2 linked regions of the Homo sapiens genome follow. The protein of the gene in region 1 purifies or fractionates together with the protein of each later gene. This does not show direct contact. Each region holds a gene or a part of one and is shown on either strand. Other genes may lie near its edges.

Evidence for each region. Proteins that work in one complex are often made in the same cells at the same time.
Region 2: the proteins of MOGAT3 (region 1) and IL36G purify together in Homo sapiens (affinity purification with mass spectrometry; one large-scale study listed by BioGRID and IntAct). This does not show direct contact.

What each region holds. Positions count from the first base shown.
Region 1 is NC_000007.14:101,198,237-101,202,215, forward strand, and holds the start of MOGAT3 (2-acylglycerol O-acyltransferase 3), read right to left. Parts: upstream 2,801-3,979; 5' UTR 2,619-2,800; coding exon 2,510-2,618; intron 2,280-2,509; coding exon 2,172-2,279; intron 2,069-2,171; coding exon 1,998-2,068; intron 595-1,997; coding exon 390-594; intron 130-389; coding exon 1-129. UniProt on the Homo sapiens protein: Catalyzes the formation of diacylglycerol from 2-monoacylglycerol and fatty acyl-CoA. Also able to catalyze the terminal step in triacylglycerol synthesis by using diacylglycerol and fatty acyl-CoA as substrates.
Region 2 is NC_000002.12:112,981,006-112,983,581, reverse strand, and holds part of IL36G (interleukin-36 gamma), read right to left. Parts: exon of another isoform or gene 2,039-2,576; intron 1-2,038. UniProt on the Homo sapiens protein: Cytokine that binds to and signals through the IL1RL2/IL-36R receptor which in turn activates NF-kappa-B and MAPK signaling pathways in target cells.

The DNA.
Region 1 (3,979 bases):
TAAGGCAGTGCTCCCCGGGGACTGAATACAGGGCCTCGTGCGCACCCCCCACCATGATGACCACGGCCTGCCCGAGCTGGGGCTGGGACAGGATGAAGTCCAGGCTCTGGCGGCTCACCGGACAGAGTCCTGTGGGCAGGAGGAGGTGGAAAGTAGTTCCCATCTGCCTCCACGGCACCCCCGCCCCTCACCCAGCCTTTAGTTCCAAGCCCCCTACCCCCATCTCCAAGGCGGGGAACCTACCCAAATGCTCACTGCAAGTCTGGGCAGTGCTCAGGCTGGCCCCTGTCCTGGGTGGGGGACTTATTATGGGGGGGGGTGGTCCCAGAGGGGCTGGGGAACATCTGGTCAGGAGTCTCCTCCCGTTCTCCTCCTCCCATTCGGCTCACCAAAGGACATGATGTAGTCGCGATAGACCGGGAGGTAGAAGAGGCCAGCCAGCACGGCTAACCAGGGCCGGAGCCCCGGGAAGAGCTGGGAGAAGCCATTGCTCTCGGTGGAGAAATTACAGAGGAAGCCTGTACACATGATCCCATGAGGGTGGGCGCCCAGCACGTAGTTCCGATCCGGGGGCAGCTCTGCTGTTTTCACCAGCTTCGGGGTGTTGAGCAGGATGAAGGGAGGATGGAAGGCAAGACACCGGCTGAAAAGAGGGGCCCTCCACCCCAACAGAGTTCCGAGTTAAAGGTTCTTAGGATAGGGTCAAGGGCCACCCCAGCAGAGTTCCGAGTTAAAGGTTCTTAGGATAGGGTTAAGGGCCCAGGTTTTTTTTTTTTTTTTTTTTGAGATGGAGTCTTGCTCTGTAGCCCAGGCTGAAGTGCAGTGGCACGATCTCGGCTCACTGCAACCTCCGCCTCTTGGTCCCGGTTCAAGCTATCCTCCTGCCTCAGCCTCCCGAGTAGCTGGGATTACAGGCATGCGAAACTATGCCCAGCTAATTTTTGTATTTTTAGTAGAGACGCAGTTTCACCATATTGGCCAGGTTGGTCTTGAACTCCTGACCTCGTGATCTGCCTGCCTTGGCCTCCCACAGTGCTGGGATTACAGGCGTAAGCCACCTCACCCACTCTCTCTTTTTTTCTTTTCTTTTTTTGAGGCAGAGTTTTGCTCCTGTTGCCTAGGCTGGAGTGCAATGGCATCATCTCAGCTCACCACAACCTCCGCCTCCCTGGTTCAAGCAATTCTCCTGCCTCAGCCTCCAGAGTAGCTGGGATTACAGGCATGTGCCACCATGTCCGGCTAATTTGTTTGGTATTTTTAGTAGAGATGGGGTTTCTCCATGTTGGTCAGGCTGGTCTCGAACTCCTGACCTTAGGTGATCCACCCACCTCAGCCTCCCAAAGTGCTGGGATTAAAGGCTTGAGCCACCACAACCGCCTTTTTTTTTTTTTTTTTTTAGAGACGGTCTCACTCTGTTGCTCAGGCTGGAGTACAGTGGCGCAATCATGGCTCACTACAGCCTCCAACTCCTGGGCTCAAGCAATCCTCCCACCTCGGCCTCCCAAAGTGCTTGGATTACAGGCATGAGCCATGGTGCCCCACCAAGGCCCCGCTCTTGAACATCATCCACTCCCAGGCCGGGCGCGGTGGCTCAAGGCTGTAATCCCAGCACTTTGGGAGGCCGAGGTGGCTGGATCACTTGAGGCCAGGAGTTTGAGACCAGCCTGGCCAACATGTTGAAACCCTGTCTCTACTAAACTACAAAAATTAGCCAGGCATGGTGGCGGGCACCTATAATCCCAGCTACTAGGGAGGCTGAGGCATGAGAATAGCTTGAACCTAGGAGGCGGAGGTTGCAATGAGCTGAGATTGCACCACTGCACTCCAGCCTCGGTGACAGGAGACTCAGTCTAAAAAAAAAAAAAAATCCATTCCCTGTCCCACTGCCTGAGCTTAGGCAGCGGGGAGCTCAGGCCCCAGCACAAGGAAGGGCTCCTAGGTGTGGGAGGGAGATGGGGAGAGGTAGGAAGCAGTTTTTCTGCAGGGTGACCCATCACCTTGACAGGATAATAATCCCTTAGTTGTCTCCAAATTGCCCGGTTCCTTATCCACTCCGAACGCCTTCCACCTGCGGACAATGAGATACTGGTGGACGAACCCCCGGAGTCACCTCCCCTCACCCCCCATGTCCCCACCATCTCTGGCTACCTGGGCCCCCATCCGGAGCTCACCTTGGTTGGGTGTGTCCCAGTCCACATAGAGCCACACCAAGTAAAAAACAGAGAAGGGCCAGAGTGACGTGAAGAGGAGGACAAAGACAAGAAGGGAGAAGAAAGGGCCTGGGGGAAGGGAGAGAAAGAAAAGAGTTCACTTCTGAAACTCCATCATTCCCTCCAGCTGCTCCCTTCCCTTCCTCCCCTTCAGAACAACCAGCTCTCTCCTCTGGCCCTCTCCCAGACCAGTCACCTGGTCACTGTCCTCAGGCATGCAAGCCAGCAGCCCAGCCACTCTCCCTCCAAGCCCTACTCCCCTGGCAGACCCCAGGCACCCACGCCTCCCCAGCTCTCACCCATGAAGAGGAAAGTGAGCACATATTGGTAGGCGCCCACTGCTTCTAGATGCTGCTTCTGCAAGGTTTTGGAAGTGGTTGGGGGCTGCAGGGTTGTGGCAACTCCCATTGCAGAAGCTCCCCTCTTCCAGCAGGATCCCAGAACCCGGAGGACAAACGATGAAGGCTTGGATGTGGACCTGGGCAGACTTTCTCCCTACAGGAGCCCAGCTTTGGGGGCCTGGCTAAGTCGCAAATCACCTCCCAGAGTAGCGTGTGTCCGTAGGTGTGTGAGTGGGGAGATCTTTGGATCCAGAGCCCCAGATGTCTCTGGGTTTTTTCTCAGCCTGATCTTTGAACTTCCTGTCAGTCACCAGTCTGGGCTGGCTGCTGGGTGGGGCTGGGAGGCGTAAGGGGTGTGCAAGGGAGAGGTGACACCCGAGTGCCTCAGGAATTGATGTTGGAGTGGACAAGAGTGATCTGGCTAGCCCCACCCACTGGGTCCCAGGTGCTGGAAGGGGCCAGAAGCCCTGCTGAGACTATTTGACCTCCAGTCGGGGTGGGGGCAGGGCCTGGTCCGGGGCATCTCCAGGAATGTCAAGGTCACCACCCCTGCCTGGACCTCCCCCGCCATGCACAAACACACACAGGCTGCAGGTCTGTTTCCCACTTTAATTTTTTTCTTTTTCTTTTCTTTTCTTTTTTTTCTTTTTTTTTCACACGTCTCGGTCACCCAGGCTGGAGAGCAGTGGCACGATCTCGGCTCACTGCAACCTCCGCCTCCCGGGTTCAAACGATTCTCCTGCCTCAGCCTCCCGAGTAGCTAGGATTACAGGCGCGCCACCACGTCTGGCTAATTTTTTTTTTTTTTTTTTTTGGATTTTTAATAGAGATGGGGTTTCACCATGATGGCCAGGCTGGTCTCGAACTCCTGACCTCAAGTGATCCACCCGCCTCGGCCTCCCAAAGTGCTGGAATCACAGGCGTGAGCCACCGTGCCCTGCCGCCAGTCTTTAATTTCACTTCCCCACCTGCAGTCACCCAGCGGACAGGCGAGGCCAGGCGGTGGGGCGCGCCTCCGTGAGGACCAGGTGTCTGTCGGCGGGGACACCATAGCGCGCCTGGTGCTCCTCGAAGAGCTGCGTGAGTCGCCCCACGTAGCGCGCTTGCAGCGTGTCCACCTGGGCCGGACTGGGCGGGGGGCTCTGCTGCACGGGAATCGCCGACCCCACTGCGGGCGGGACGGGAGGCGATCTGGGCTGGGATCCCCGGTTCTCCTCCTCTTTTCCTCCTTGGGGATAGGCGGGAACAGAGTTCAGGGCTGGCGCGGTGGCCAAAGGCCAGTCTGGGTGGCCCCAACCCGGGACGGGGAGGGAGCGGGCCCTGGGCCAGGATCGCGGGGCGGAGGCCGGGGCTCACCTACGGTGCGGATGGGCGCGCGGAAGGGCAGCGGGAGGCCCCGGCGGCCCAGGAACAGCTGCAGGGCCACGC
Region 2 (2,576 bases), on another chromosome or scaffold:
CTTACTCTCCCTGCACCTCACACCAGCCCCACATCTTCCCAAGGCCAGCTGCTCCCCATCACCTGGGTCTCCTCCTTGGGGAGAACTTTACTGAACATTCCATCCCAGCCAAAATCGGTTTGGAATCCTCCCTCCTACTCATTGCGATCATATTCCTGAGTTATTTTCTTCATTAGTACCAACTGCTATCTAAACTTAGCGTATTTATTCATCAATCCCAGAATGATTGTTAGACTTGTTCATCACTGTATTCCTCAACACAGAGGAAAGCCCCCAGCATTCTACTCAACAGAGATTTGCTGTTTAATAAATGGAAGAATGCTTCCTCCTTTGAAACTCCCATACCTCCTCCATCATCACCTTCAACTTCCTACCCACTGAGAAAATTGAAGTAATTAGAAGACAACTTGTACAAACCACACCATAACATGGGCTCCCAGCACATGGCACCCATATCTGCACCTCCCTGCTTGAGGAGGACTGGGTGAAAGGTCCTATCTGCACTTGCAACTTAAGGACATCCCTCTAGCCGTTCTCCCTGCTCTCTTGTGCTCCATCAATTTTGCTTGCTCTTCTTAGTCATTCCCATCAGCATATTTGCTGTCATTTCTACCATCTTAAACAAAATAACTACTTTGCTTACCCACCACCGCCACCAGTTCCACTTTGCAGAAAACTTCCTGCAATCGCTGTCCATATCTGCTGTCTCTGATCCCTTTCTTGTAATTCCTCCCTTTAAACTTACTCCATCCAGGCTTTTGCCCCCACTACAGCACCAACACTGCTCCTGCCAAGGTCCCCAAAGACCCACACATTGCCAAACGCAACAGTCAATTCTTAGTCCCCATCTGAGAACAAACGCACAACATAAGGGTGACTTAGCTGACAGGACAAAGTAGCAAATGTCATTCTCAGTCCTGACTTTATTGATCACACTCACAATCCTGTTTCCTCCACTTAAAATACTACCAGAATCTGACTCACTGCTCCCCACCTCTGCTGCTATCTCCTGGCCCATCAAATCACACCTAGACCACCTCAAAGTCTCCTGAAGGACTTTCACCTTTGCCCGCCACAGTCTAAGATCTCCAGAGAGATCCTTTTTAGACCTAAGCCCCTTCACGCCATTCCTCTGTTCAAAACATTCTAATATTTCCCATTTCACTCAGATTGCAAGGCTGAGTCCTTGCAAAGGACAAGACTTTCATGTCTGCCTTTATCTCTCTGGACTCATTCCTCAATTCACTCCTGCACACCGGTCCTCACTGGTCCTGGGACGTGCCCTCACTAGACACCTGCTAACTAACTTCCCTAGCTCTTTCTACTCCCTGCTAACATCTCACCTAGGCAATGATGCCTATTGCACTATTCACCACTGCAGCCTGACGCCGCCTGTGTTCCTGGTACTGCTGGTCTATCTATCCTGCTGTAACCATTTTTATTTTTCTAGGAGAGGTAAAGACCTCTAACATAGCACAAATTTGCCTACTATTACATTTATTGTTTGCCATTTCTCTCCTTTCACTAGAATCCAAGCCCCACATGGTCAGGGTTCTTTGCCATTCTGTGCACAGCTATATCTCAAGCATCTACGCAGTGCTAGAGGCCAGGAAGTACCCATACATGCGCTTAATTGAATTGGATTGAGTTGAATCAAACTGAATTAAACTGAAGTTTGTGGAACGAGGACAAACAGTCATTAAAAAATAAAAAAAGAACAAACCAGAGAGCTTGGGAATTAAAAGAGTAAAGATTGAAATTTCAGGAAATGCTATAAAAGGATGATTTCCAGAAGGGACAACACTGAAAATGTAACCATGAGCTGGCAGAGCAAAGCAAGAAATTCTTCCAGATGCAACACCAAAATTTTAAAAAGCAATGAAGGGATAGAAAGTATAAAAAATTAGATGAGATATCGTGAGATATTGAAGTGAGATTCATAACTTCCAACGATGGATGAATAGGAATTCCAAAAGGAAAATAAGGGTGAGAATATACTTGAAGAAATGATGGCCAAGAATATATCAAAGGTTAAGAAAGACAGAGCAGTGTGAAGAAGAGGCAAGAACAGCCCCCAGACTGACCAAAACCCGCACAATGCTGCATCCTGCATCCAGTGCCTATATCCCGCTGGGGTGGCCACCACCATGCCCAGGAGAAAGGCTGAAGGGGATGCTGAAGGAGATAAGCCAAGGTGAAGGACGAACCACAGAGAAGGCCCGCAAAGTTGTCTGCTAAACCTGCTCCTCCAAATCCAGAGGCCAAGCCTAAAAATGCCCCTGCAAAGAAGGGAGAGAAGGTACCCAAAGGGAAAAAGGGAAAAGCTGATGCTGGCAAGGAGGGGAATAACTCTGCAGAAAATAGAGATGCCAAAACAGGGAAGGCACAGAAAGCTGAAGGTGCTGCAGATGCCAAGTGTAGTGTGTGCATTTTTGATAACTGTGTACTTCTGGTGACTGTACAGTTTGAAAAACTATTTTTTATCAAGTTTTATAAAAATGCAGAATTTTGTTTTACTTTTCTTTTTAAGCTATGTTGTTAGCACCCAGAACACTTCATTGTTGTTTTTAGGGGAA